4 linked regions of the Homo sapiens genome follow. The protein of the gene in region 4 interacts with the protein of the main gene of each other region in a pairwise test. Each region holds a gene or a part of one and is shown on either strand. Other genes may lie near its edges. The genes, in order: CFL2, DES, ZBTB8A and EHHADH.

Region 1 (6,887 bases), on a different chromosome or scaffold from region 4:
ATTTTACAAATTATTTTCATTACGACCAAATAAGCAATAAGAGCTTCCTGCTTCTACTATACAACTACTTAGAAATGTAAATGTGAATAAAAAAATAACTATGCTAATTTATCCAGAGAACAAATCAGATATTGAAAAGTATTTATGCCAAAGTGCAAAAAATAATTTCTGATCTTCATATTAACACATAGGAAATAAATACACTAATGTTTATAAAAGTACCATTCTTTAACAATGGTATTTTATATTAGTTGGCCTTAAGATAGAATACTTTTTAAACCAAATAGATCCAACAAATCTGGAAAATATCACACATGAATGCTGTACAAAAAAAATTCTCAAATGACCAGTGCAGAGATTAGTAATAGCTGTTTTTACCCTAGAAGTTGTTTCACATAACATTTTGCAAAATTTCCAAGGAAAACAAGGCAACGTTCTGTAATATGCCACAATTTTTATTGCAACGTGGCCATTTTTGTGAGGGTGGGGAGTTTGATCTCAAAACAATGTTCCATTTAAGGCTCTTTTATACAGAAATTGCCATCATGACTGATATTCAAAATATCTTTAGTGTTGCAGGACTCACATGGTAAACATAAAACTCCTACACTTATTCAGTAGTGTACACTCAATGGAAAACAAAAAGGCATTAATAACAGCTATTTCTTTTAAGAAGATATGCAGGTAACAGGAATGAACACTGAGGTACTAGGATAAGTTGATGACACAGTTAACAAAACTTAATTGGCATTCCTTTTAGGATATTAAACTTATTACAAAAAGTGCTTTTAATGCATAGTGTTATATCCGTGCTGCCATATCACTAAAATAGGCTTGCCAAGGCAGGTGAGGTGTATGAATGCTCAAGCCTCACAGAACTGCAATCAAGTGCCAACTATAAATAATACTGAAAAAAGTTGACCATCTGACCAGTGGATAATACTTTCAAGGCATTCAATTAGCTTATCCTTTGCAGTATTCTAAGCTATTCACATTGACGATCACATACATTGTAGTGCTTGCTGCAAGGGAGGCATATAACCAGTTGTTTTGGCTAAAATATGACAGGAAGGCATTCCTTGGGTTCTATATAAAAGTAACAGTATTCAACAGTCTAATGGCAATCACTGATAGGCTGCTTAAATAAATGATATTTCCTTCATTCATTGTGTTGGAAGGGCCCAGTGGAAAGGGGGAAATACAACAAAAAACCAAAACCTAATACTATTCCAATGGACTGAGCTGGAGAAATGGAAGCTCCTTAAGATCCAGATGGCACTTGACTGTCATTTTATAATGGTTTTCCTTCAAGTGAAACTACTACATTGCCTCCCAATTTCTCTCCAAGTGTCGAACGGTCCTTAATATCATCCAAGCCATTTACTTGCCACTCATGTTTAATACCTAAAAAGAAAAAACATTATCCTATTACTTTATTATAATTAATAAAGAATAATTTCTCTGCCCCAAATATTCAAGTTTGTACCTGTAAATTTCTTTTTAATGGCATCTTTAGAGCTAGCATAAATCATCTTGCTTTTTAAAGGTGCACTTTCAGGAGCCCTACAGAAAAAAAAAAAATTATTGAATCCCATTTATAAGAAAAACAAAGGTAAGACTGACTATGATAATAATAATCCTTGCATTTTAAAAGTACTTTTTTCTTTTGTTTTTACACACCAGAATATAAATACTAGGTCTTCTTTCTTAGACTCTTTTGTTTCGTATGTGGCATCGTACAAAGCATATCGGCAATCATTCAGAGGTAGCAACTTCACAAAAGATGTGTAGGGGTCCTCTACAGTATCACCAATGTCACCCACCAAGATCTGCTTTGCTTCCTCTACAATTATTTGTCTTTTGTCATCGCTTAAACAGAAGAGAACTGCTTTCTTTCTCTTTTTGATCTCCTCTTGTGTAGAAGATTTCCTTACTTTCATATCATTAAAAACTTTGATGACTTCATCATTCACTGTAACTCCAGAAGCCTGAAAATAAACACAGAACAGTAATTCAGAACACGTATTTTGGTTTTAACCAAAATTACTGTTTGCCTAGAGAAGACTCACTTTAGTCTGGACATCAAAAATTGCACCGTACCATGTAAGTCGTCCAATCAGATTTGTCACATTTTAAGAATCAGTAGACGATACAGCGAAGGAGTCTAACTCATCCTGCCCATTCATCCTTCTTAAAGGGGTTTGGACGTGGAAGCGAAAGGGACAAATACAAGTTGTCCCATCCCTGAAATGTTTCCTATTTCACTGGGTGATGTCAGAGCTTCAGGAGTGGCAGCAAAAATACCTTCTGTATTGTGTCAACTCGGCTGGCCTTAAAAAAACACTTTTGGATTTCAGTTAATGCTTCTACTATTTTTTTCTTTAAAGTCATCCTAGCCACTGACGTTTCCTCATAAGGAAAGAGAATCAAGTGTAAACTCCAAACCGCCCACGGCCCACACACAGCTCACATGCAGACACTCCAAAACTAACTGATCGAGTGTAAAAGCTTTTACGGCGAGAAAGCATTTTAAAAAGTGTTTTCCCTCTTCCTTAATCTCCCCGTAAGGGTTTTATTACAGGCCGTCCAGACCCTGACCCACACAGCGTTCGCAGCACGTACCAATTTTAAAGCCTCGCGTGTTAAGTAAAATTAGGAAGCGAAGGGCAAAGGCGGCGCGAGCGGCTGCAGTCCGCAGACCCTCTCGCGCCCCCGCCCGCCCGGCCCCGACCCCCAACCTGCGCCGACGCCCGGGCCCTCCCCGCCCCCCAAAATCCAAAGAGCAGCAGGGCAGGGCCTGACGGCCGGAGGGCAGGCCGGTCGGCTGGAGAGCAGCGGAGCCGCAGAGCAGAAGCGCCCACCTTGGAGGCCAAAATCAGGTTAAAATGGCGGCCTCACTCCCGGGGCCGTGCGGGGGGCTTTTCTCGCCTCGCCGCGGCCTCCCGGCCAGCGCGCTCGTCTTACCATAGTGCCCTCGGCTGTGGCTGCGGCGGCAGCTCGGGCTTCGGCTCTGTGGCACTGGGAGGAGAAGGAGGGGCGGGCGAGCGGGTGGGCAGCGGAGAGTGCGGGGCACGCCGGGAGCTGCAGCCCGAGGGAGGTGGCGGGGCTCGGCGGGCCGCAGGCAGCGGGCGGGGCGGTCACGTGGGCACGCCTGGTCCCCAGCCGGCGCCACCCGCTCCCAGGCCGGCCCTTCTGTCTCGCGGCCCCGGCTCCCCGGCTGTCCGCGTCCTCGGCCTGACCTCAGAGCGCGAGCCCTGCAGGCCGGGGGGGGCGACGCGGTGGTAGCGGAGCCCGGGAGCCTGGCAGAGCCGCCTCCAGCCCCCGAGCATCACCCGTCAAGCCGGTGGGAGAGAGTGCTGGGCTCCCAGAGGGGCGTTTCCACCGCCTCCGTAGGGCCCTGCGCCAGGGGTGGGTGCGTGTGAGGGGAACTCCTGCGAAGGTGTCTTTCCTTATTTACCTGTGGTTTTCCCGAAAGAGGCTGGATTTCGACATTTTGAGTCTTTTTGGAAAACCCCCAGTTGTTTAGAGATAAATGAGAATAAATACTACACGAGATTGCTCCAGTTGATAGTACTTAGCAAAAACAAAATGATACGCAGTGTTGGTAAATCACTTTTCAAAACTCTGGTTGAAATAATAATTATGATTAAAAAATTACGTGGTAGCATTCCTTAGTAATATCCTTTTACATTTTAGACTTCATAGGAAATGGATTGTACTCTCTCTTAGAGATTTCATGAAGCTCCAGCTATGACAGCTGATATCAAATAAGCCGACGCAGCCTCTTCTAGCAAAGCCCATATAACTGCGCCAAGGCAGTTTCTCTTTTTTTAATCTTAACTCCTCCATACCTCAGGGTTCTTCATGTGTAAAACAAACTGTTATTAAATTATCGTTAAGGCCCTTTCCAGCTTTAGATTTCAGTTTCTGAGTATATCAATGTTCAGTAGGAAATGGTGTGTTTTTGGTGGTCTCAGGATTGAGGTTAGGCAGGAAAGTCATGAGATGGTGTTTGCCCTAGATTGCGTGATAAGTTCTTTCAGCCCAAATTTACTGTATTTTAAATGGAACATGCTAGGCATTGAAACAGACCTATTTTTCTGTCTATATCTTGGGTTTGTTTTCTTAATTGGAAGATAGACTTCGTTTAGAGACAAAAATTGAGAAGGGATTTCCCAATGTCTAAGCATGAATCCCAAGCAAGTGGATAATACTTTATATCTAGCTGGTACATTACAATTTATGGAACCTTTCACTTTATCTGTTGAACTTCCAAGAAGTCATGGAGAATGTCTCTCCAGAGCTCTGATCATCTGCTATGTGTAGGTATTAGCAAATTCCTGTTCGCTTCATCTTGCGGTTACCTTCCCTTCCCAACCTCAGAGATTTGCAGCAGCCCCAGCAGAGACCAGGTCTGATGACACTGGGGCCTAAAGTGGGTGTCAGAACCTTACCCACCAAAGCTGGGGATTCCAAAGATGCTAGTCACCCCCTAGCTCGGACTCCAACCCCTTTCCATGCCTCCCATTCTCTCTTACCCTCCCCAAACAGAGATGGTAATTCACATGTTCTAAGATTCTTTTCCTGAAGTTATTTTTGTCTTGCATATATTTTGTTACATTATAATAACTTGTTTATGTCTTCTGCCACCCTACTGCGCTGTAAGCTCCTTAAGGATCTGAGTCCTGGTTATCTTTGAATTTCTGGAACCTGACAGATAGTAGGTGCTTAATAGGTGCTGAAATAATACATTTAAGATGCTTTAGTGCTGTAAAGAGAATGAAAAGGAAGCTTCTGAAAATTGTGAAGCCTTTCTACATGCCCTTGTGAGCATGGCACTGAGAATGTCAGGGCCAGTAGCAGCTTCCTGCCTTCACCTCTGTGAGTTATAACCAGAACTTACCACCACTTGGTAAAGGGGCAGCATTGCCAATCATTGCTGCATGAATTTTGGTCACTGTGTAGTGGAGGGGGATCTGAGTGTCAGATACCACATGTATTAGCGTTCGACTGTTGCTATAACAAATTACCATAAAATTACTTGTTTAAAACAACACAAATTTATTATTTATGGTCTTACAGAGTCAGAGAAACAAGTCTCTCTCTCTATATATATATATTTAAGAGATAGTCTCTGGTTCTGTTGCCCACCCAGGTTGCTGGAGTGCAGGATGTGATCATAGCTCACTGCAGCCTCATACTCCTGGCCTCAAGTGAGCCTCCTGCCTCAGCCTCCCGAGTAGTTGGGATTACAGGCATGAACCACCACAACTAGCAGAAATAAGCCTGATGGGGCTAAAGTCAAGAGACTGTAGTGGGAGACTCCTTTGCCTTTTCCAACATCTAGAGGCTGCCCATCATTTTTTTTTTTTTTTTTTGAGATGGAGTCTCACTCTGTCACCCAGGCTGGAGTGCAGTGGTGCTATCTCGGCTCACTGCAAACTCCGCCTCCTGGGTTCACACCATTCTCCTGCCTTAGCCTCCTGAGTAGCTGGGACTACAGGCACCCGCCACCATGCCCGGCTAATTTTTTGTATTTTTAGTAGAGATGGGGTTTCACCGTGTTAGCGAGGATGGTCTTGATCTCCTGACCTTGTGATCCGCCCACCTTGGCCTCCCAAAGTGCTGGGATTACAGGTGCGAGCCACCACACTCGACCTGCCCATCATCTTTGGCCTGTGGCCCCAGGCAGCAGTCGCATCACTCTGACCTCTGCCTCAGTCATCACATTTCCTCTGACTCTCTCTCTCCTGCCTCCGTCTTCCACTTATAAGGACCATTATGGTTACTTTGGACCCCACTTGGTAGTTTAGGATAATTCCCCCTCTCAAGATCCTTAACTTAATCACATCTGCAAAGTCTGTTTTTTCGTACAAGTTAACATTCAAAGACTTTGGAGGTTAGGACAGGAACACCTTTGTGAGGAGGGGTTGCATTATTCTGCCTACCATACAACTGTTCTGAGCAATTTCAAGCTCAAGCAAACAATTAATAGGTGTGACAGAGGGACCCCGAACAATGTGGTACTAGATACTTTTGTGCTGTAAACATCTAAGCTATAATTATCCATTTACTAGACCACACATAGATGGCAGTGACAACTATTAGGAACTTAGTGAGAGTAACCTCTGAATGTAATCTCAGCTCAGACACTAGTAGCGGTGCAATTTCAGGCCATTGATTTAGCTGCCATAAGGCTCAGTTTCCAAATCATGTGTAAAATAGGGATTATATGACCTCTTCCCTCTCAGGATTATGGGGAGGATCAAGAGAGATAATGTATGTAAAGCCCTTGTCCAGCACAGAAATAGGAACCCTGGAGCTGTTATTACCACCAGCAGAGTGAAGATGAAGGCACTGATTTTATCAACTCATAGGCAATAGCGTGAAGCCGTCCCAATCCTCATTGATTCTGAAGACTCAGCTAAAGTTTGTTTACTCAGGATTCTTTAAAAAATTGGAAAGGTGATCATCCCTTAATATATATAATCTATTCCCCCAAGAAACAATCTATTATGTATATATTTACTTACTCACTTACAGAGATGGGGGTCTTACTATGTTGCCCAGGCTGGTCTCAACTTCTGGGCTCAAGCAGTCCTCCCGCCTTGGCCTCCTAAAGTGCTGGAATTACAGGCATGAGCCACCACACCTGAGAAACAATGTGGATGGAGGTTCTGTGGCATGTAAAAGTTTGAAAGAACTATCTAAAACAGTGAATCTGGAAGATTATGCAGACAAACTGTGTGTAAGCCCTACTCCCTGTCAAGAGACATCACATTCTCAGCTCCCACAGCCACTTCCTGACAAAGACAAATGTAAGCATAAAGACACTACCACTTCAAAATGTACCTTTCTACCGACATGCCTTCCTAACTCTGACATAT
Region 2 (7,875 bases), on a different chromosome or scaffold from region 4:
GTCCTCCAATTCCCGCATCTGCCTCATCAGGGAATCGTTCTGCAGGAGAGGGGGAACCCAGGTCAAGGAAGGGAAGAGGACACTAGCAGCCCAAAGAAAGCTTTGGGGCTGGCAGGCAACTCCAGATGGTCAGGTCCAGGCCATGTTGAACCCTGAACTCAAATTAAGTCTATATGTGAACACTCAGAATAAAATAGATACAAAGGAACATTGCATTCAGCCTCACAGTCCCCACATAGGTAGATGCCCAGGAACCCCTGATTCCTTAGCATCCAACTGGAATCCACTTGTCTGGTTTTACCCCTATTGTAGATTTAAGTAGATGAAGGCCCAGAGAGGATCTATGATGGGCCCAAGGTCACAAAGTGAGGGTGTGAACTGCAGACAGGAAGGGGCAGGGCCTGGCCAGGTGGGCAGGGACTCACAGTGCCCTTCAGGGCGTCAATCTCGCAGGTGTAGGACTGGATCTGGTGTCGGTATTCCATCATCTCCTGCTTGGCCTGGCGCAGGGCGTCGTTGTTCTTGTTGGCTGCCTGGGTCAGGTCTGACACCTAAGGGCAGAGAAAGGGGCCCAAAAATGAGAAGGATGCAGGGCACGGGTAGGGATGAGCAAGGGAGCATGAAGCCTCTGGGCTCTCCTCCCATGGATGGTACCACAGGCAGCACATCCAAGCTGGGATTCAGGGGGACGGAGATGCCAGTCCCCGGGCGAGGCCACCCACCTTCGACTTGTACCACTCCTCAGCTTCAGAAATGTTCTTAGCCGCGATGGTCTCATACTGAGCCCGGATGTCCCTGAGGGCGGCAGTGAGGTCTGGCTTAGACATGTCCATCTCCACCTGGACCTGCTGTTCCTGAAGCTGAGCCTGCAACTCACGGATCTCCTGTAGGGCATGACTGGGCTTCAGTCCCCTCTCAGGGCCCACACAGCACCCTCACACCCCTATTCCCAGCCAGAGCCTCACCCCAACCCCACTTTCCGGCTGCTTTCCCCATGGCCCAGTGACCCCAGGAAGAGGGGCCAAGGTATACCTCTTCATGCACTTTCTTAAGGAACGCGATCTCCTCGTTGAGAGATTCAATTCTGCGCTCCAGGTCAATGCGAGCTAGAGTAGCTGCATCCACGTCCTGGGAGAGGCCAAGCGAGAAGGACATGGTCACCGCCACCCAGGTGGGGCAGAGCAAGGCCAGAGGCCATGCAAGGGGAAAAGAAGGGCACTCACCGCTCGGAAGGCAGCCAAATTGTTCTCTGCTTCTTCCTTCAACTGAATCTCCTCCTGCAGCCTGGGTGGGACAGACAGAAAGACAGACAGTTGCGGGTGATAAAGCTGGCAGTGGAAACGACTGGCCGGGGGCTGACCAGGGGGTGGGTCCAGGACAGAGCGGGAGGGCCTGGCTGCTGGGTAGAGGCAGGAGAGACAGGGAGTGGAGAGGCCCCACCCACCCAGGGAGGGCACAGGAAGTGGCCCAATCTCTGCCCAGGAGCCACACCCTTGAAGTCTATGTCCCCACCAGACTGTGTGACCTCCCTGGGGTTAGAAACTGTGTCTATTTTATCCACCTCTGTGTTTCTGGTTCCCAGCTCCAGCCTGGCCAATATAGCTGCTCAATTAATATTTATGACTTTGGTGGCAGGAGGGTGACTGTGCTCACTTGGCCTGTCAGAAGTGGGACCAACAAATATGCTACACTTGCTGCCCTTTTCGTTCTTGGAGCCTGGTGAAGTCTACAGTCAGGTCCTCCCAAGCTCTCTGAGAGCTGTGACCCCCACCTACTCCCTTTTTCTCCAGCCTGTCCATTCACCTTGTAAAAAGACACAGTCTCGGCAAGGCCCCAGGGCCAAGCTCCCCCCTCCCCCCACCTCCCCCAGGGCCTCATCACAGCTGAGCTGAGAGCTGTTGCTTGGACTCTGGGCCCTTGCCCTGCTTTCCCTGTCTCCTATCAGCCTCCCTTCTCCCTCTGGCTACACTGCCCTCTGGGCCTCCTGCAGCCCTTCCTCTGCCCATCAACTACCTGACCCCATAAATATCGCCCCAGCATCTTAAAATGCTTTTTAACGGGGCTGTCCACAGGGCACCGGGTCCCCTAAATTCTCCCATATCCACCCCCTGATCTATGTCCCCAAGAAAACTCCTGTGCAAGATGGGATCGCAGGGGGAGAGACCTGGAGGTCACGGCCCCTTGAAACACACAGGTGGAGGACCCTTTCTCCACATGGGGCAGGAGAGGGTCCCGGGCCCCGGGAGAAGGCAGGTGCTGACAGCGGGACCCCAGACCCCAGGCCTAGCCTCCTGTGCCCTGCCCGCAGAAAGAGGAGTCTGGGGTGCCGGGCCCTCACTTGGCCTTGAGCCGCTGCAGGTCGTCGAGCAGGTTGTCGCGCTCGACGTCGACGCGCGCGCGCTGGTTAGTGAGCACCTCCACCTGGCGCCGCAGCTCCCGCAGCTCCTCCTCGTAGAGCTCGGCCACTCGCGTCGGCTCGCGGCCCTTGAGCCGGTTCACTTCGGCGGCGAGCGCCGCGTTCTGCTGCTCCAGGAAGCGCACCTTCTCGATGTAGTTGGCGAAGCGGTCATTGAGCTCCTGCAGCTCCACCTTCTCGTTGGTGCGCGTGGTCAGAAACTCCTGGTTCACCGCGTCGGCCAGTGAGAAGTCCAGCAGCTCGCCTGCGCCGTAGGAGGAGGGCGTGCGGGTGGTCCCCAGCCGGCTGGCCCGCAGCGACCCCAGGCCCCCGGCCCCGCCCGACGTGCGCGACACCTGGTACACGCGGGACGTCACCGAGCTGGAGGAGCCCTTAGAGCCGAAACCCGCCCGCGGGAACACGGGCGAACTCAGCGGGGAGCCGAGTGGGAAGCCCGGGGCCCCGCCGAAGGTGCGGCGGTAGGAGGACACGCGCTGGCTGGACGAGTAGGCCTGGCTCATGGTGACGGCGCGGGCGAGGCTGGCGGGCGCACGGAGGAGGCGGCGGGCAGGCGGCCGGCCGGAGAGTGGATGCGGCGAGGGGAGACAGGGCCCCCAGCCGTCGGCACTATTTGTATCCCTCCTGACATCAGCCCCCGCCTCCCCTCCCCTGACAGCTGCAAGATCCCGCTGTCCTGCCAGGAAAGGGCGGCCCGTGGCCGTGGGGGCGGGGAGGCCAGCTCCCCCGCAAGAGGCCTGCGCCCCTGAGTCAGCCAGCGGGGGTCCTGTGACGGGCAAGCCTGCCAATCCTTCGCCAGGGCAGGCAGCAAGCATGTCTGCAGCCCCCAGGCGGGCCTCTTTCAGCCCTGGTTATCTCCTCGTCCTGGGGTGGGGGGGAGTGGGGTCAGGGGAGACAGCAGAAGAGAGGCTTCCCTTTAGTTTGAGGGTCCCCTTTTTGGTCAAGGAGAGACTTTGGGTCATTTCTTAAAGGGTCAAGGCCTGTTCCCAGGAAAGGCCCTAAACCACCTTGTTCCTAAATATTCTCTTGAAGTCGAAGAGGTTTGGGTCTCAGGCAAAGACCAGCCAGGCTTGAGGGTGGGGGTCTCTAGGCAGGAAGGGAGGGCAGGGAGACGCCTGGCAGGCGGAGGGATCCTGGCCAAAGCCTGCCTGCCATGTATGTCTATGGGCGAGCTAGCCCTGAGCCTCAGTTTCCCTCTGGACTAGTGCAGGCCCTCTTCCTCCCCGGTACTGTCGAGGGTGGGGCCTCAAGTTTATAAACAGTGGGCTGATTTCCAGAAAGGGTCTGATAAGCTTTCAGTTTCCAATTGCTATGTGCGCTCCCACCCCCGCACAGACTTTGTGTGGCTCCTGCCCCCTGGGTCCCCCGCCCCCTCCCTGATTCATCCCCCTACTCACACCACCCACGCCCACACACACCAGGGGTTTGTGTTTTGTCAGGAGCCGCATGTCAACCCAACCATCTCCCTGGCAGCAACAGCTGCCAACCCCAAATACCAGAGCGGGTATTTATAGAGGAGAACGCATGGCTGGGAAACAAGGCACAGGAGAGGAGCTGTGGGGGGCAGGGGGTACCTGAGGAGGCATGGGTGGGCGTCAGATAAGGAAGGCTAGGGTGACAGCCCCAATCACTTCCCACCCCCTATAATGCTCCAGCCCCCACCCCCACAAAAATGGAGCCCCACAGAGGGCCTGCCCAACCTCCAAAGCCCCCTCCTTAGCACACGGCACTTGCTAACCCCTAAGGACATCCACCATTCTCCATGGGTACTGGCCGTGCCTCTACACCTCCACTTGGCACTCCAGGTCCCTCTTGGACCTGACCCTTTTGGAATGCAAACCCTGAAAATAGAGTGCTCGATTAGGAGCCAGTCACTGGTCCTACCCTAGACCTGCCATCACCAGCTGGAGGGGTTACTAGTAGGTGTGTCCTTGTCTGAGCCCCAGCTCAGGCACGTCCTCTCTGAGCCCCAGCTTGTCAGATATAAAGTGAGGATGGTTAGCCTTGCCATGCTACCCTATAAAGGTTTAAAGAGGCCCAGGCCCTACTAATGTATGTAGCAACAATAATACCTTACATGTACTGACCACCTAGTGTGGGCCAAGCTGCTGAGCACTTCACACCCATGACCCCCAATTCTCCAACCCTAGGAGGTAGACACTAGCATCATTCCCATTTTATAGCTCAGGAAGCTGAGACAGTGAGACCTCACAGCCTGTGGCTTTGGCCTCAGGATGGGTGTGAATGTGCCGGGTAAATTGTAAAGGGGGCTTTGTTACTGCACTCTTTTCAAAGCCCTTTCCCATTAAGTGTCTAATTTTCATCCAAGAGACAAGCTTCTGAAATAGATGGGGGAGTTCCAGATATTCTTATCCAGCCCTCGAGTCAGTGCAAGCTGTTGTGTTCTGGTTATTTTTGTGTCTCATCTCCCAGACTAGACTGTATGCTCCTGGAGGATTTTGGAGACCATGTGGATCCTTAACACACTCAGGCAGCACCGTCTTTCTCATTGTCATTCAAAGTAGCCTGCAAGCTTTCTTTTGCAATTTCCTTATTTTGATGACATGCTGTGCCTCCTCCCCATCCCTCCACCCCTAAAGACCCTGATTCCAGCCAGTCTTATTACTGCATCTCCCTGACTTCAGTGACTGGGTCAAGGAATGGGCCTGGGAATGAGCAGGGCCAATCAGAGACCTTCCCTGGAATTTATAGACGGAACTGGGATTCTTCAACTGGAACCTGTGGAAGCCATGTTTCCTGCCCCCTGGGGGAGTAGGAAGAAAGAGAGGTCAATATGTAAGAAGCAGAGGAGGCTGGAGAGGAGGAGCAGGCCAGCCCCTTGGTTCCTGCAGTGCTTCCCTCAACTTTGTGAGTTGAGCTCCCACACTGTCCTTCCTGGCCTTGGGCCAACAAACTTTCCGTTTTTTTTTTTTTTTTTTTTTTTAATTTAAGGCACTTGGTATTGCTTTGATCACTTACAGCCCAAAGAACCAGATTAATCTTCCTGAAGGGGACTCTACACCTATTTCTATGATGCTACTGGGACAACATTTCTGGAGCTCTTCTCTGTGAATGATCTCCAGACCACATAAGGAAATTGGCCTTTGGACCAGCCCAAGTCCTCAGTTCCTTGGTGAAAAGAGGCAGAAGACAAATAAATCATGCCATCTATTCTCTAGTCAAAATCAACAACCACCAGACTTGGCCCCGAACCACTTGGGACTGTTTTCAAAATTCAGTTCCACCCCTGAGGATTTGCTACCATGGAGGGCTGCAAATCAACACCCCGAGGCTTGGAAGGCAGGTGAAAGAGGAGCACTCCAAAACATGCTGTGAGCTGGGCAGCACCGCTGGAGGGAGAGTTCAGCCTCCCGAGAGGACCACTCAGGATGGGACACACTAAAAATACCGACAATTTATTTGGATGGGTAGTGTATATGGTACAAAATTCAAGATGTGCAAAAAGGCATAAAATGAAAAGTAAGTCTCCTTCCCACTTTGACACCCAGCCACCCCAAACACTGCTTCAGAGACAACCAGGTTTTGGTTGTTATCGGTTCCTTTCAGAGATACTTCATGTACACACAACCACATTTTCTTATGTGGAGCCCCCACTTCTGAATCAATCTTTTTTCAATGACATACAGCTTAGAGATGGTTCCATTTTAGTACATTGACAGCTGAGTCACTTTTACATTGTGATAAAATATACATAAAATAAAATTCACCATTTGAGCCATTTTTTAAGTATACAGTTCAGTGGCGTCAAGTACATTCACATTGTTGTACAACTATCCCCACCATCCATCTGCAGAACTTTTTCATTGTCCCAAGCTGAAACTCCATATGTATTAAAAATAACCCTCCACCTTCCCCTCCTCCCAGCCCCTGGTAAACATCATTCTACTTTCCGTTTCTACGAATTTGACTCTAGGTACTTCATGCAAGTGGAATCATACCATATTTGTCCTTTTGTGACTGGCTTACTTCCCTTAGCATAACGTCTTCAAGGTTCATCCATGTTGTGACATGGGTCAGAATTTCCTTTCTTTTTAAGGCTAAATAATATTCCATTGTATGTATACACCACACTTTGTTTATCTGTTGATGAATATTTGGGTTGTTTCCAACTTTTGGTTATTGTGAATAATGTCGCTATGAACTTTGGTGTACAAATATCTGTTCAAATACTTATGTTCAGTTCTTTTCTGTAGATACTCAGAAGTGGAACTGCTATGTTATATGGTAATGCTATGTCTAAATTTTTGAGGAACTGCCATGCTGTTTTCCGCAGCAGCTGCACTGTTTTACATTGCTACCAGCAGTGAACATGGGTTCCAATTTCTCCACATCCTGGCTAACACTTGCTATTTTCTATTTGTTTATTTGTTTTATAATATTAATAGTAGCCTTCCTAATGGATGTGAGGTGGTACCTCATTGTGGTTTGTTTGTTTTGTTTTGTTTTTTAGAGACAGGGCCTCTGTCACGCAGGCTGGAGTGCAATGGCACGATCATCACTCACTGCAGCCTCAAATTCCTGGACTGAAGTGATCCTCCTGCCTCAGCCTCCCAAGTACCTAGGACTACAGGTGCAAGCCACCATACCTGGCTAGTTTTTTTACTTTTCCATAGAGATGAGGTCTCCAAACCTATGTTGCCCAGGCTGGTCTCAAATTCCTGGGGTCAAGTGATGTTTCCACCTCAGCCTCTCACAGTGCTGGGATTATAGTTGTAAGCCTCCACACCCAGCCTTATTTCATTTTTTAAAGATAGGGTCTCACTCTGTTGCCCAGGCTGGAGTGCAATGGCATGATCATACCTCACTGAGGACTTAAACTCCTGGTCTCAAGCGATCTTCCTGCCTCAGTCTCCTAAAGTGCTGGGATTATGGAAGCAAGCCACCACACCTGGCTGCTCATTGTGGTTTTGATTTGCGTTTCCCTAATGATCAGTGATGTTGAGCATCTTTTCATGCGCTTACTGGTAATCTGTATATCTTCTTTGGCAAAATGTCTTCAAATCCTTTGCCCATTTTTGAATTGGGTTGTTTGGGGATTTTTTGTTGTTGAGTTGCAGGAGTTCTTTATATACTCTGGATATTAATCCCTTATCAGATATATGATTTGCAAATATTTTCTCCCATTCTGTGGTTTGCCTTTTCACTCTGTTGATAATGTCCTTTGATGAACAAAAGTTTGTAATTGTGATCAAGTCCTATTTATCTATTTTTTATTTTATTGCCTATGCTTTTGGTGTCATATTCAATAAATCATCGCCAAATCCAATGTCATGAAGATTTTCCTCTTTGTTTTCTTCTAAGAATTTTATATTTTAGCTCTTATGTTTAGGTATCATGTCTGTTTGTTGTTGTTGTTGTTGTTGAAACAGGGTCTTGCTCTGTTACCCAGGCTGGATTACAGTGGTGCCATCATAGCTCACTGCAACCTCAAACTCCTGGGA
Region 3 (7,025 bases), on a different chromosome or scaffold from region 4:
CTTGGCTCACCGCAACCTCTACCTCTTGGGTTCAAGCGATTCTCCTGCCTCAGCCCCCCAAGTAGCCGGGATTACAGGAACATCCCACCATGCGTGGCTAATTTTTATATTTTTAGTAGAGACAGGGTTTCACCATGTTGACCAGGCTGGTCTCGAACTACTGACCTCAGGTGATCCGCCCGCCTCGGCCTCCCAAAGTGCTGGGATTACAGGCATGAGCCACAGCACCCAGCGAGGTGTTTTGTTTTGTTTTGTTTTGAGACAGAGTCTGACTCTGCCCTCCAGGTTGCAGTGCAGTGACGTGATCTCGGCTCATGGCAACCTCTGCCTCCCGGGTTCAAGCGATTCTGTCTCTGCCTCTGGAGTAGCTAGGACTACAGGTGCGGGCCACCATACCCGGCTAATTTTTGTATTTTCAGTAGAGATGAAGTTTCACCATATTGGCTAGGCTGGTCTCAAACTCCTGACCTCATGATCGGCCTGCCTCAGCCTCCCAAAGTGCTGGGATTACAGGCATGAGCCACGGTGCCTGGCCCCGGCCAGGTATTTCTTTTTATCAATGAGAGCATGGACTAATACAGGGACAATAATAATACCTATAGCTTACAGAGCTGCGAGATGGAGAATATTAGAAGCTAATCCAAGAAACGTGCTTATAACAGTGCCTGGCTTATAACAAGCCCTTGATAAATGTCAGCTATTATTATTATTATTAATTATCTAAACATTTAAAAACACTGCTTTCAATGAGTACAAAATGTAAACATTTTAGAGTTTTATTGCCACACATTTTCTTGTCTTATACAAATGGGGATACAGAAAGGAGGCTCACGCCTGTAATCCTAGCACTTTGGGAAGCTGAGGCGGGTTTATCACCTGAGGTCAGGAGTTCAAGACCAGCCTGGCCAACATGGCAAAACCCCATCTCTACTAAAATACAAAAATTAGCCGGGCATGATGGCGGGTGCCTGTAATCCCAGCTACTTAGGAGGCTGAGACGGGAGAATCGCTTGAACCCTGGAGACGGTGGTTGCAGTGAGCCGAGATTGCACCACTCCACTCCAGCCTGGGCGGCTGAGTGAGACTCTGTCTCAAAACAAAAACAAAAACAAAAACAAAAAATGTGGATACAGAAAAAAAAAATGTTTTTTGACTGGTTTCATCATATTCATGTACCTAGAGAGAGTGAGAGCGATCATTTCAAAACTACATGTGTACCTGGGAATAGCAACCCTCGACTCCAACTAGTCAATTGCAGACCTCACCTTAAGGAAGGATTATTCTTTTTTTTTTTTTTTTTTTTTTTTTAATTTGAGACGGAGTCTAGCTCTGTCGCCCAAGCTGGAGTGCAGTGGTGCAATCTCGGCTCACTGCAACCTCTACCTCCCGGGTTCAAGTGATTCTACTGTCTCAGCCTCCTAAGTAGCTGGGATTACAGGTGCCGGCCACCATGCCCAGCTAATTCTTGCATTTTTAGTAGAGATGGGGGTTTCACTGTTTTGACCAGGCTGGTCTCGAACTCCTGACCTCATGATCCACCTGCCTCGGCCTCCCAAAGTGCTGGGATTACAAGTGTGAGCCACTGCGCCTGGTCTTTTTTTTTTTTTTTTTTTTTTTGCTTTGTTTGTTTTTTGTTTTAGACAGAATCTTTCTCTGTTGCTCAGGCTGGAGTGCAGTGGTGAGATCACAGCTCACTGCAGCCTTGACCTCCCCGGGCTCAGGTGATCCTCCCACCTCAGCCTTCTGAATACAAGTGTGTGCCAAATTATTCTTGAGAAACCATTTTTGCCTTTTTTTCTTTCTTTTTTTTTTTTTTTTTGAGATACAGACTTGCTCTGTCACTCAGGCTGGAGTGCAGTGGCCTGAGAATGAGATCTATAACCTAAAATAAGATTTGCAACCTAAAAGTTTATGTTTTAATGTTGCTGAGTACAGTGGCTCGAACCTGTAGTCCCAGCTACTCAGGAGGCTAAGGCAGGAGGGAAGATCCCTTGAGCCCAGGAGTTCGAGGCTGCAGTGAGCAATGCTCATGCCACTGCACTCTAGCCTGGGCAACAGGGCAAGACTCCATCTCTACTAAAAAAAAAAAAAAAGAAAGAAAAGAAAATTTGTTTATACTTAGAATACTACTCTAATGTATATATTTAAAAAGTCATGGATAAAATTATGGCTTAGTTTGGTTTGCTGAGGTATCTTCTGGTGATGAAAAATACATTGCAGATTTTGGAATAAAACTTCCCCCAGCCGGGCATGGTAGCTCATATCTATAATCCTAGCACTTTGGAAGGCCCAGGCAGGAGGATCACTTGAGCCCAGGAGTTCGAGACCAGCCTGGGCAACATGGCGAGACCTCATCTCTACAAATAATTAAAAAATTAGCCAGGTGTGTGGTAGTATATGCCTGTGGTCCCAGCTACTCAGTAGGCTGAGGTGGGAGGATCACTTGAGCCTGAGAGGCTGAGGCTGCAGTGAGCTGTGATTGTGCCACTGCACTCCAGCCTGGGCAACAGGGCAAGACCCTGTCTCAAAAACAAAAACAAAAAACTTCCCCCAGATATTCTGGAACTGTAAGAATTTTATGTTGGACCTAGTCCAACAGCGCCAGGGAGACAGAGGGAACTGAAGGTGATATAAGGCATCCGCTATGCCCTCCGTGTTTCACATGCTGCTGAGAGCCACAGGATTCAAAGCAATGGAGGTTTTCTGAAGGGTCAGAAAAACAGCCGAAAGAAAACAACTTCATCTTTTGATACAATCATTAATTTTACATTGTTCTGAACTCCACAGAAGTATATTTTCCTTTTTTAAATTCTTGAGACAAGGTCCCACCAGCCTGGAGTGCAGTGGTACGATCTTGGCTCACTGCAGCCTTGGCCTCCGGGGCTCAAGTGATCCTGCTTCAGTCTCCCACATAGGTGGGACTATAACAGTGTACCACCATGTCTGGCTCTTTCTATATTTTAACAGAAAAATCTTTTATTTATTTATTTATTTTTTTTTTTGAGACAGAGTCTCACTCTGTTACCCAGGCTGGAGTGCAGTGGCATGATCTTGGCTCACTGCAACCTGCCACTCCTGGGTTCAAGTGATTCTCATGCCTCAGCCTCCTGAGTAGCTGGGATTACAGGCACGCACCACCACACCTGGCTAATTATTATATTTTTAACAGAGACAGGGTTTCGCCATGTTGGCCAGGCTGGTCTCAAACTCCTGGCCTCAAGTGATCTGCCCGCCTTGGCCTCCCAAAGTGCTGGGATTACACGTGTGAGCCACTGTATGTGGCCCTTTTACTCTATTTTTATGAGAAGGGCAGATACTCAAATTGGCAGGTGAAACGCATTTTATTCAAGACATATTTATTGAGCAACTACTCTATACCAGACTATACCTGGTCCTGAGAATATAGAGGTGATGAAATGTCAAAGGTCAGTGCTCACTTTCAAGCAGCTCACTGTCTAGTAGGAGAGAGAGAGAGTCAGAGAAGAGACAGGAAGAGAAGAGACTTCTAGACAAAGTGACAATACAATGAAGAAAATACTCATAGTAGAAGGGAACTGTAAAACAAAGAAAGCAAATGATTGTACCTGGTAGTATTGAGAAACATTTCCAAAAGGCTCAACGTTTAGGTTGGGTCTTGAAGGATGAAAAGAAGTTTATACATGAGAAAGAGGGCAAAAGGCGTTCTAGCCAGAGAGAGCACCAAATGGGAAGGCAAAAACAGCGTATTAAACAGCATGGCCTCCTAGGGGATGGTAAGAAGTTTGCTATAGCTAGAGACTGTGGGCCTACAGAAGGATGGCAGAAGATGAAACTAGAAAAGTATGTAAGAGCTAGATCTTGGAAGCCCCTCCAGTTTTGGGGGTTCTGAGGCACTTCTGAAGGATTTTAAAAAGAAGAAACACAGGATTATAGGTCTACCAATCATTAGCTGTGTGACTTTGTCAAGTTACTTAACTCTAAGCATTCGTTTCCTTTTTGTAAAATGAGGTTATTGACTGTTTAGAGGCTCTAAGGAAGTCTGTTAAGAGGATTAAATAAGATAATCGCTAAAATAAATAAGATTAAATAAGACAAATAGAAATAAGCACATGAAGAGATGTTTAGCATCATTAATCATTAGAGAAATGCAAATCAAAATCACAATGAGATACTACCTCACACCCACTAGGATAGTTTGCTACAATAATTTTTTAAAATTTTTTTCTTCTTCTTTTTCTATATTTTCTTTTTTTTCCATGTTTTTCCAGAGATATAATAATTTTTTAAAAAACATGAAAATACTAAGTGTTGGCCAGAGTATAGATAAGTAAGAACCTTCACACACTGCTGGTGGAAATATAAAATGGTACAGCGACTTTGGAAAACAGTCTGGGAGTTCCTCAAATGATTAAACATGGAGTTATCATATGACCCAGCAATTTCACTCCTAGGTATATATTCAAGAGTAATGAACACATACGTCTACACAGAAACTGATACACGAATGTTTATAATAGCATTATTTGCAACAGCTAAGAGGTGGAAACAATCCAAATGTCCACTGACGGACAGGTGGGTAAACAAAATGTGGTATACCCATACAATGGAATGTAACTCGGCCATAAAAAGAATGAAGTACTGATATGGTCACGCGCCGCATAACATTTTGGTCAACAACTGACTACATATACGACGGTGGTCCCATAAGATTATAATACCATATTTTTATTGTACCTTTCCTGTGTTTATTTATTTGTTTATTTATTTTTGTAGACAAAGTCTTGCTCTATCCCCCAGGCTGGAGTGCAGTAGCACCATCTCAGGTCACTGCAACCTTCGCCTCCTGGGTTAAAGCAGTTCTCCTGCCTCAGCCTCCTGAGTAGCCGGGATTACAGGCACCCACCGCCATGCCTGGCTAATTTTTGTACTTTTAGTGGAGACGGGGTTTTGCCATGTTGGCCAGGCTTGTCTTGAACTCCTGACCTCGGTGATCCACCCACCTTGGGCTCCCAAAGTGCTGGGATTACAGGCGTGAGCCACTGTGCCCAGCTTTCCTGTGTTTAGATATGTTTAGATACACAAATACTTACCATTGTTTTACAAATGCCTATAGTATTATGCTATACAGGATTGTAGCCTAGGAGCCATAGGCTATACCATACAGCCTAGGCGTGTAGTAGGCTATATCAGCCAGGTTTGTGTAAGTACATTCTATGATGTTCACACAACAACAAAAATCACCTAACAACACATTTCTCAGAACATATCCCCATCATTAAGTGACATATGACTGTATATACTACAACATGGGTGAACCTTAAAAACCTCATGCTGGCTGGGAACGGTGGCGTGAGCCTGTAGTCCCAGCTACTTGGGAGACTGAGGCAGAGGACTGGTTGAGCCCAGGAGGTCAAGGATGTAGTGAGCCAGGATTACGCCACCACAATCCAGTATGGGTGACAGTGAGATCCTGTCTCTAAAAAACAAACAAGTCTGGGTGTGGTGGCTCATGCCTGTAATCCCAGCACCTTGGGAGGCCGAGGCGGGCGGATCATGAGGTCAGGAGACCGAGACCATCCTGGCGAACACGGTGAAACCCTGTCTCTACTAAAAATACAAAAAATTAGCCGGGCATGGTGGCAGGTGCCTGTAATCCCAGCTACTCGGGAGGCTGAGGCAGGAGAATGGCGTGAACCCAGGAGGCGGAGCTTGCAGTGAGCCGAGATCGCGCCATTGCACTCCAGCCTGGGTGACAGAACGAGACTTTGTCTAAAAAACAAAAAACCTGATGCTAAGTTACAGAAACTAGTCATAAAAAATACATATTTTATTTATGATTTTATTCACATGAAATGCCCAGAATGGGTAGATCCACATAGGAAGTAGATGAGGGGTTATCAGGAGCTAGGGAGACATGGGAATAGGAGTGACTGTTAACAGGCATGGGGTTTCTTTATGCAAATGATGAAAATGTTCTGGAGTTAAGAGGGTCATGATGGTTGCACAATTTTGTGACCATATCAAAAAACTGAATTGTACACTTTAAAATGGGTAAATTTTATGGCGTAAGAGTTATATCTCAGGCCAGGCGCAGTGGCTCACACCTGTAATCCCAGCACTTTGGGAAGCTGAGGCGGGTGGATCACCTGAGGTCAGGAGTTTGAGACCAGCCTGACCAACATGGTGAAACCCCGTCTCTACTAAAAATACAAAAAATTAGCCGGGCATGGTGGCAGGTGCCTGTAATCCCAGCTGCTTGAGAGGCTGAGGTAGGAGAATTGCTTGACCCTGGGAGGCGGAGGTTGCAGTGAGCCCAGATCACACCATTGCACTCCAGCCTGGGCAACAAGAGTGAAACTCCGTCTCAAAAAAAGTTATATCTAAAAAAAAAATAGGAATTGTCCTATACACTGGGGTCAGTTACAACCTGATATTCACATTGAAAGGATTTTAACATAACATGCATTCATAGTAGTACTCTTGAGTCATCAAAAAAGGTTTAAGTTATTTTCAGAATTATGTGATTAGGTCATGGAAATCGGTAATGCATTTCAGATTTTCTTCTTTCAGTAGAGTGACTTTATACGTTGAAACAGCAAGTTAGATCAATTTATATGGGACATCCAAAATCCAAATGGAAACATTTTAAATATCTGTAAGAGTTAAATATTATAATAGTCCCAAGAATATAACAGAATTCAAGATTTCCATCAAGTTCAATGATCTTTAAAAAGGTGGTTGGGAAAGACAATTACACATTTTAGGAACCATTAAGTTCGAAAGTCTTTGGAATAGAAGCCAATGACATGTATTTCTATGAGTAGACTGAAGATTTAAGTAGCGAGTGTAACTTGAACTAAGGTTGTCGTTGAGAAGATCAACTCTCTTTTTTTGAGACGGAGTCTTGCTCTGTCGCCCAGGCTAGAGTGCAGTGGCGCAATCTCGGTTTACTGCAACCTCTGCCTCCCAGGTTCAAGTGATTCTCCTGCTTCAGCCTCCCGAGTAGTTGTGATTACAGGTGCCTGCCACTGTGTGCTAATTTTTGT
Region 4 (7,025 bases):
CAAATGGCCAGTAAGCACTTGAAAAGATGCTCAACATCATTAGCCATCAGAGGAATACAAATCAAAACCACAAGGTAACACTTTATACCCACTAAGATGGCTATTTAAAAAACGACAGACAATAACAGGTGTTGGAGAGGATATGGAGAATACAGAATCCTCATACATTGCTAGTGGGAATATAAAACAGAGTAGACACTTTGGAAAACAATCTGGCAGCTTCTTAAATGTTAAACATAGAGTTACCATATGACCCATCAAATCCATTCCTGGGTATATACCCAAGAGAAATGAAAACATATGCCCACAAAAATCCTGTATACAGATTTTCATGGCACCATGGTTCATAAAAGCCAAAAAAGTAGAAGCAACCCAAATGTCCATCAATGATTAGTGGATAAATGAAAGGTAGTACATCCATACAATGGAATATTATTCAGCAAAATCAATAAAGAACTGATTCATGCTACAACGTGGATGAACATTGAAAACATGCTAAACAAAAAAAGCCAGTCACAGGAGACCACATATCATATGATTCTGTTTATATGAAATATCCAGAATAGGCAAAACATGCTAAACAAAAAAAGCCAGTCACAGGAGACCACATATCGTATGATTCTGTTTATATGAAATATCCAGAATAGGCAAAACATGATAAACAAAAAAAGCCAGTCACAGGAGACCACATATCATATGATTCTGTTTATATGAAATATCCAGAATAGGCAAAACATGATAAACAAAAAAAGCCAGTCACAGGAGACCACATATCATATGATTCTGTTTATATGAAATATCCAGAATAGGCAAAACATGATAAACAAAAAAAGCCAGTCACAGGAGACCACATATCGTATGATTCTGTTTATATGAAATATCCAGAATAGGCAAAACATGATAAACAAAAAAAGCCAGTCACAGGAGACCACATATCATATGATTCTGTTTATATGAAATATCCAGAATAGGCAAAACATGATAAACAAAAAAAGCCAGTCACAGGAGACCACATATCATATGATTCTGTTTATATGAAATATCCAGAATAGGCAAAACATGATAAACAAAAAAAGCCAGTCACAGGAGACCACATATCATATGATTCTGTTTATATGAAATATCCAGAATAGGCAAAACATGATAAACAAAAAAAGCCAGTCACAGGAGACCACATATCATATGATTCTGTTTATATGAAATATCCAGAATAGGCAAAACATGATAAACAAAAAAAGCCAGTCACAGGAGACCACATATCATATGATTCTGTTTATATGAAATATCCAGAATAGGCAAAACATGATAAACAAAAAAAGCCAGTCACAGGAGACCACATATCATATGATTCTGTTTATATGAAATATCCAGAATAGGCAAAACATGATAAACAAAAAAAGCCAGTCACAGGAGACCACATATCATATGATTCTGTTTATATGAAATATCCAGAATAGGCAAAACATGATAAACAAAAAAAGCCAGTCACAGGAGACCACATATCATATGATTCTGTTTATATGAAATATCCAGAATAGGCAAAACATGATAAACAAAAAAAGCCAGTCACAGGAGACCACATATCGTATGATTCTGTTTATATGAAATATCCAGAATAGGCAAAACATGCTAAACAAAAAAAGCCAGTCACAGGAGACCACATATTGTATGATTCTGTTTATATGAAATATCCAGAATAGGCAAATCTATAGAGACAGAAAGTAGATTAGTAGGTGCTTAGGATAGCAGAAGGTGATGGAGGATTACTGCTACAGGATACAAGGTTTCTTTTTGGGGTGATAAAATGTTCTAAAATTTACTGTGATAATGGTTGCACAACTCTGAGAATATACTCATATACCATTGAATTGCACACTTTAAATGAATGAATTGTATGGTATTTAAATTACATCTCCAAAAGGCTATTTTTTTTTTTTAAAGTCAGACAGTAATCTCAGTCCAGACAAGAAGGGGAGCTTGAGTCCTTTATTTTATTGCCTTTCTTGGCCCATTCCATTTAAAAGTGGCTGAGGATCTGTTAGCCATTTACAGGTATAAGGGTGAGAGGAGGGTACTTAAATGCGGACTGCCATTTACCCAGATCGTGATTCTAGCAGTTCCAAAATACCTCACATATGTGAGGCCTGTCTTACATGAGGTTTTCCTAACAGTCAATCACCATTCTTTCCATCACTGCCCATCTCTACCTCTTTACTTATTGCTAGTAACTCAGATCTGCACTCAGGGTACAGGTTGTGGTAAGAGGGACACAGAAAAGGAGCACTTAGGACATATATGTGTATTTATTTGTAAGCATTTATAAAAATTAAAACACCATTGGGAAATGGTTAAATAAATTCTGGTATAGCCATATGATTGAATATTATGCCGCCACTTATAATGATTTTTTTTCTTTTTTTTGAGACAGAGTTTAGCTCTTGTTGCCCAGGCTGGAGTGCAATGGTGCGATCTCGGCTCACTGCAACCTCCGTCTCCTGGGTTCAAGTGATTCTCCTGCCTCAGCCTCCCAAGTAGCTGGGATTACAGGCATGTGCTACCACGCCCAGCTAATTTTGTATTTTTAGTAGAGGCGGGATTTCTCCATGTTGGTCAGGCTGGTCTTGAACTCCTGACCTCAGGTGATCCGCCTGCCTTGGCCTCCCAAAGTGCTGGGATTACAGGCGTGAGCCACTGTTCTTGGCCTATAATGATATTTTTAAAGAATATTTACCAGAAGAGTAACATGATTTCTCCTCAGCCACAGAGGCCAGAAGGCATGAAATAACATACACAAAGTGCCAAAAGAAAACAACTGTCAATCAAGAATTCTATATCCAACAAAACTATCTTTTGAAAATGAAGGCAAAATTAACACATTTCCAGATAAAGAAAAACTGATTTTGTTGTTAGTATATTTGCCCTATAAGAAATACTTCAGGCTGTAATGAAAAGGCACTAGACAGTAACTTGAATTCACATGAAGAAATAAAGAACACTGATAAAGAGTAACTTCATGGGTAAATATAAAAGACAGTAATAATGTATTTTTCATTTGTAATTCCTCTTTTTCTTATCTGATTTAGGACCACTATGTAAAGCAACAATGATAAATCTATGTTAAGCAGTACATAATGTATGAAGATATAACTTGTGACAATAATAGCATAAAGGGGCAAGTAATGGAGGCTACAGAGGAGCAAATTTTTTGTATATTATTAAAATTCAGTCAGTATTAATCTGAACTACATTGTCATAAATTAAGATGTTAATTGTAATCACCAAGTTAACCACCATTAAGAAAATAACTAAAAATATATATAGTAAAAGAAACAGCAAGAAAGTTACAAGGGTATACTTTTACATTTAACACAAATGAAAGCAGTAATGGAGGAATTGAACAAAAAAACCAAAAAGCATAGAAAACAAATAGCAAAATGGCAGATGTTCTTCCTTATCAGTAATTACATTAAATATAAGTGTATTAAGTTCTCTAATTAAAAGACAGAGATTGGCAGAATAAAGAATATTTAATTATGGGTTAAATATTATAGTATAAAAATAGAGTATAAACTAAATACAAAAAAAGCCCAAATGTGGTTTTTTTTGTTGTTGTTTGTTTTGAGATGGAGACCCGCTCTGTCACCAGGCTGGAGTGCAGTGGCACGATCTCAGCTTACTGCAACCTCCACCTTCCAGGTTCAAGTGATTCTCCTGCCTCAGCCTCCCGAGTAGCTGGGATTACAGGCGCCTGCCAGCATGCCCAGCTAATTTTTGTATTTTTAGTAGAGACGGGGTTTCATCATGTTGGCCAGGATGGTCTCGATCTCCTGACTTTGTGATCTGCCTGCCTCGGCCTCCCAAAGTGCTGGGATTACAGGCATGAGCCACCATGCCCAGCCAATGTACTTTTTTTTAAAGGACATTTTTCAAAGGAAAAAGAATCTGTAAGAAAAAATTACATACAAAAAAAGACTAGAATGAAATAGAATGTTAATAGTGGTTATTTCTGAACTGTGAGTTTATGATGATTTTAGTTTACATCTGTATACTTTCTTATGTTCTCTAGTTTAGTAGAATGAATATTATTTTCATCATTAGAAAAATATATTAATTACAAAAATGCCACCATTATATATACTGTGATACACAGTGGTATCACAGACCTCATCTGACATGTCTAACAGCCTAAATTAAACCTATTTCCAGAAATTTCCCCATATTTACTAGTTTTGTGCTATTTTCCAATAGAAATTTGTCTTATTAGGTACTGATAATTATAAGGGACCATGAAACAGAAATCTTTGAGTTATCAAAGAAGTATTTAAATGTATACTTAGAAGTGACAGCCAACATATTTAATACTCATACTGCATGAGCACTGCATCAGTGAAACCTGATATGGGTCATAGTACTGGAGGTAGAGTCTCGGGGCTCTCTATTGACTCAGGAGTTCCCCTGTAGCTGATGGATCAGAGAGAGGCCCTAGGGCTAAGGTTAAGGGAAACAAGATCATAGAGAGGCCCTAGGGCTAAGGTTAAGGGAAACAAGGAGTTCCCCTGTAGCTGATGGATCAGAGAGAGGCCCTAGGGCTAAGGTTAAGGGAAACAAGATCATAGAGAGGCCCTAGGGCTAAGGTTAAGGGAAACAAGGAGTTCCCCTGTAGTTGATGGATCATAGAGAGGCCCTAGGGCTAAGGTTAAGGGAAACAAGGGAAACTAGGGCTCAGAGTAGCAGGTGTTTACTTACCAGAATGGAAGTGAAGTATTTGAACATTTTAACAATTAGTACCACTGTACTGGCACGTAACAGCTGAAGTCGTTAACCAGTAAGCTAACCATTCAAAATTATCACCTCTGGGCCGGGTGCAGTGGCTCATGCCTGTAATCCCAGCACTTTGGGAAGCCAAGGTGGGTGGTCACCTGAGGTCAGGAGTTTGAGACCAGCCTGGCCAACATGGTGAAACCCCGTCTCTACTAAAAATACAAAAATTTGCTGGGCATGGTAGCATGCCTGTAGTCCCAGCTTCTTGGGAGGCTGAGGAAGGAGAATTGCTTGAACTCGGGAGGTGGAGGTTGCAGTGAGCCGAGATCACACCACTGCACTCCAGCCTGGAAGACAGAGTGAGACTCCATCTCAAAAAAACAAATAAATAAAATAATCACCGCTGATACTTATGACTACATTTAGAGTTTGCCCTAAAGAAAAGCCCCACACACCAGCCACTATATAGAGCCTTGGTTGTTACCTCTGCGTGGGCAATCCTATAGTGACAGCCCAGGGCCAGCTCTAGTCCCCCTCCGAAAGCCATGCCTTGGATTGCTGCCACCACGGGCTTCTCATTTCTCTGTATTTCATCTACTACATGTCCCAGTGTAAGGCCAAATGTCCTAGGAGCACTGAAGCCACGAATATCAGCACCTAAGGGCACAAAGACAAGGAGAAAACAGAGTTGAGAAATACATGGGCATTGTTATATAACAGTAAGTTACCTGATACTCTTTAAAAAATTAATTTGTTTTATTTATTTCTTAATTTTTTTTAGAGTTCCTGATGACTAAAGTCTCAGACCTCTTTGGGCCCTTACACTTCATCCTTGGCTGAAAACAAGTATATTGGAGAATGTAGAATGCTATGAGAGAAAATCCTTGAATCTTTACCAGGAATTCTGTAATTTTCTAAAATCTATCTTTCCATATAATAAGTAGTAAGTCTATATTTAAAAAAATTAAAAATCTCAGAAAAGGGGAATAGGGACTCTCCTCCAAAGATCATTATTCTGAGATTGAGTCAGCCCCTCTCATTTTTGTATGTGTGATACTGTTAATCAAGTCTATTCACAGCAACTTAGCTCCATATCTTTGTTAAGGGCATGAGTCATCACAATATAAAATATCAGGGTAACATGTATACATATTTATGAGTTATATGTTAATCAAGCAGCTTAGAATTATGTTTTTGTAATAGATTTTTATCTTCAATAAAAATAATATTTATTGCTTTTCCTGATTATAAAAATAACATGTATTATGGAAAATTTGAAAACCACGCAAAATTAAAAAGAACATGAAGATCACCCTAAATATCACTATATAGCCATAATTTAATATTTTGAGGAGTTCTTAGTTTTTTTCCACATGTGTGAGCGAGCATTACAACCTGAGCTCTGCCTTCTGTCAGATCAGTAGCGGCATTAGATTCTCACAGGAGCGTGAACCCTATTGTGAACTGCACAAGTGAGGGATCTAGGTTGCGCTCTCCTTATGAGAATCTAATGCCTGATGATCTGAGGTGGAACAGTTTCATCCCAAAACAATCCCTGCCCCCCCACCCTCCCAGGCCTGCACCCCCACCCACTACCCCTGTCCATGGAAAAACTGTCTTCCATGAAACCAGTCCCTGGTACCAAAAAGGTTGAGGACAGCTGATTTAGAGCATACCATAAAATCATTTTTATATTTTCCTGTTTTCATATAACATTATACATAGTAAGCTTTTTCCTACAGCATTATCTATTCTTTGAAAACACTAAGCTTGGTACAAGTTTTAAAAATTAATTATTTTATATCTAGCCTATTCATCTTTTTTTCCCTTTTTGCTACCTGTTCCTCATCTAGCATCAATCCAGGAGTTAAGCTTTTTTCTCACCAATTCATTATATTTCACTCTCTAGTCCAGTGTTTTGTTTCGTGTTTTCAATTCCTTTTGGTTCTAGAGAAACAAGATCAATTTCAATCCAAGTCTCAAGCCTATCATTCCTGTAGCTTTAGATTGAGATAGTTTTTTAGATAATAACAGAAATGAACAATTATTGGATAAATGCATCAAGCACTGTGCTAAGCAGTTTCATATACTGTGTCATTTAATTTTCATAACACCTAAGTTAAGCAGCATAACAATTCCCATTTTACAGGTAAGGAAGTTAATGCTTTGAGACAAGTGACTACTTCAGACATATGACTAATAACTGGTAGAATAGGGATTTAAACTTAGGCAATTTGACTACAAACCCCACATTCTTAAAAGCT

What was found.
Region 1: the proteins of EHHADH (region 4) and CFL2 interact in binary tests that used the Homo sapiens proteins (3 or more experiments, as listed by UniProt).
Region 2: the proteins of EHHADH (region 4) and DES interact in binary tests that used the Homo sapiens proteins (3 or more experiments, as listed by UniProt).
Region 3: the proteins of EHHADH (region 4) and ZBTB8A interact in binary tests that used the Homo sapiens proteins (3 or more experiments, as listed by UniProt).

Annotation. Positions count from the first base shown.
Region 1 is NC_000014.9:34,711,574-34,718,460, forward strand, and holds the start of CFL2 (cofilin-2), read right to left. Parts: upstream 3,021-6,887; 5' UTR 2,968-3,020; coding exon 2,965-2,967; exon of another isoform or gene 2,862-2,964; intron 2,223-2,861; exon of another isoform or gene 2,104-2,222; coding exon of another isoform or gene 2,101-2,103; intron 1,989-2,100; coding exon 1,681-1,988; intron 1,564-1,680; coding exon 1,487-1,563; intron 1,405-1,486; coding exon 1,292-1,404; 3' UTR 1-1,291. UniProt on the Homo sapiens protein: Controls reversibly actin polymerization and depolymerization in a pH-sensitive manner. Its F-actin depolymerization activity is regulated by association with CSPR3. It has the ability to bind G- and F-actin in a 1:1 ratio of cofilin to actin.
Region 2 is NC_000002.12:219,413,504-219,421,378, reverse strand, and holds the start of DES (desmin), read right to left. Parts: upstream 3,003-7,875; 5' UTR 2,917-3,002; coding exon 2,339-2,916; intron 1,285-2,338; coding exon 1,224-1,284; intron 1,129-1,223; coding exon 1,033-1,128; intron 885-1,032; coding exon 723-884; intron 552-722; coding exon 426-551; intron 40-425; coding exon 1-39. UniProt on the Homo sapiens protein: Muscle-specific type III intermediate filament essential for proper muscular structure and function.
Region 3 is NC_000001.11:32,542,421-32,549,445, reverse strand, and holds part of ZBTB8A (zinc finger and BTB domain-containing protein 8A), read right to left. Parts: intron 1-7,025. UniProt on the Homo sapiens protein: May be involved in transcriptional regulation.
Region 4 is NC_000003.12:185,230,045-185,237,069, forward strand, and holds part of EHHADH (peroxisomal bifunctional enzyme), read right to left. Parts: intron 5,419-7,025; coding exon 5,246-5,418; intron 1-5,245. UniProt on the Homo sapiens protein: Peroxisomal trifunctional enzyme possessing 2-enoyl-CoA hydratase, 3-hydroxyacyl-CoA dehydrogenase, and delta 3, delta 2-enoyl-CoA isomerase activities. Catalyzes two of the four reactions of the long chain fatty acids peroxisomal beta-oxidation pathway.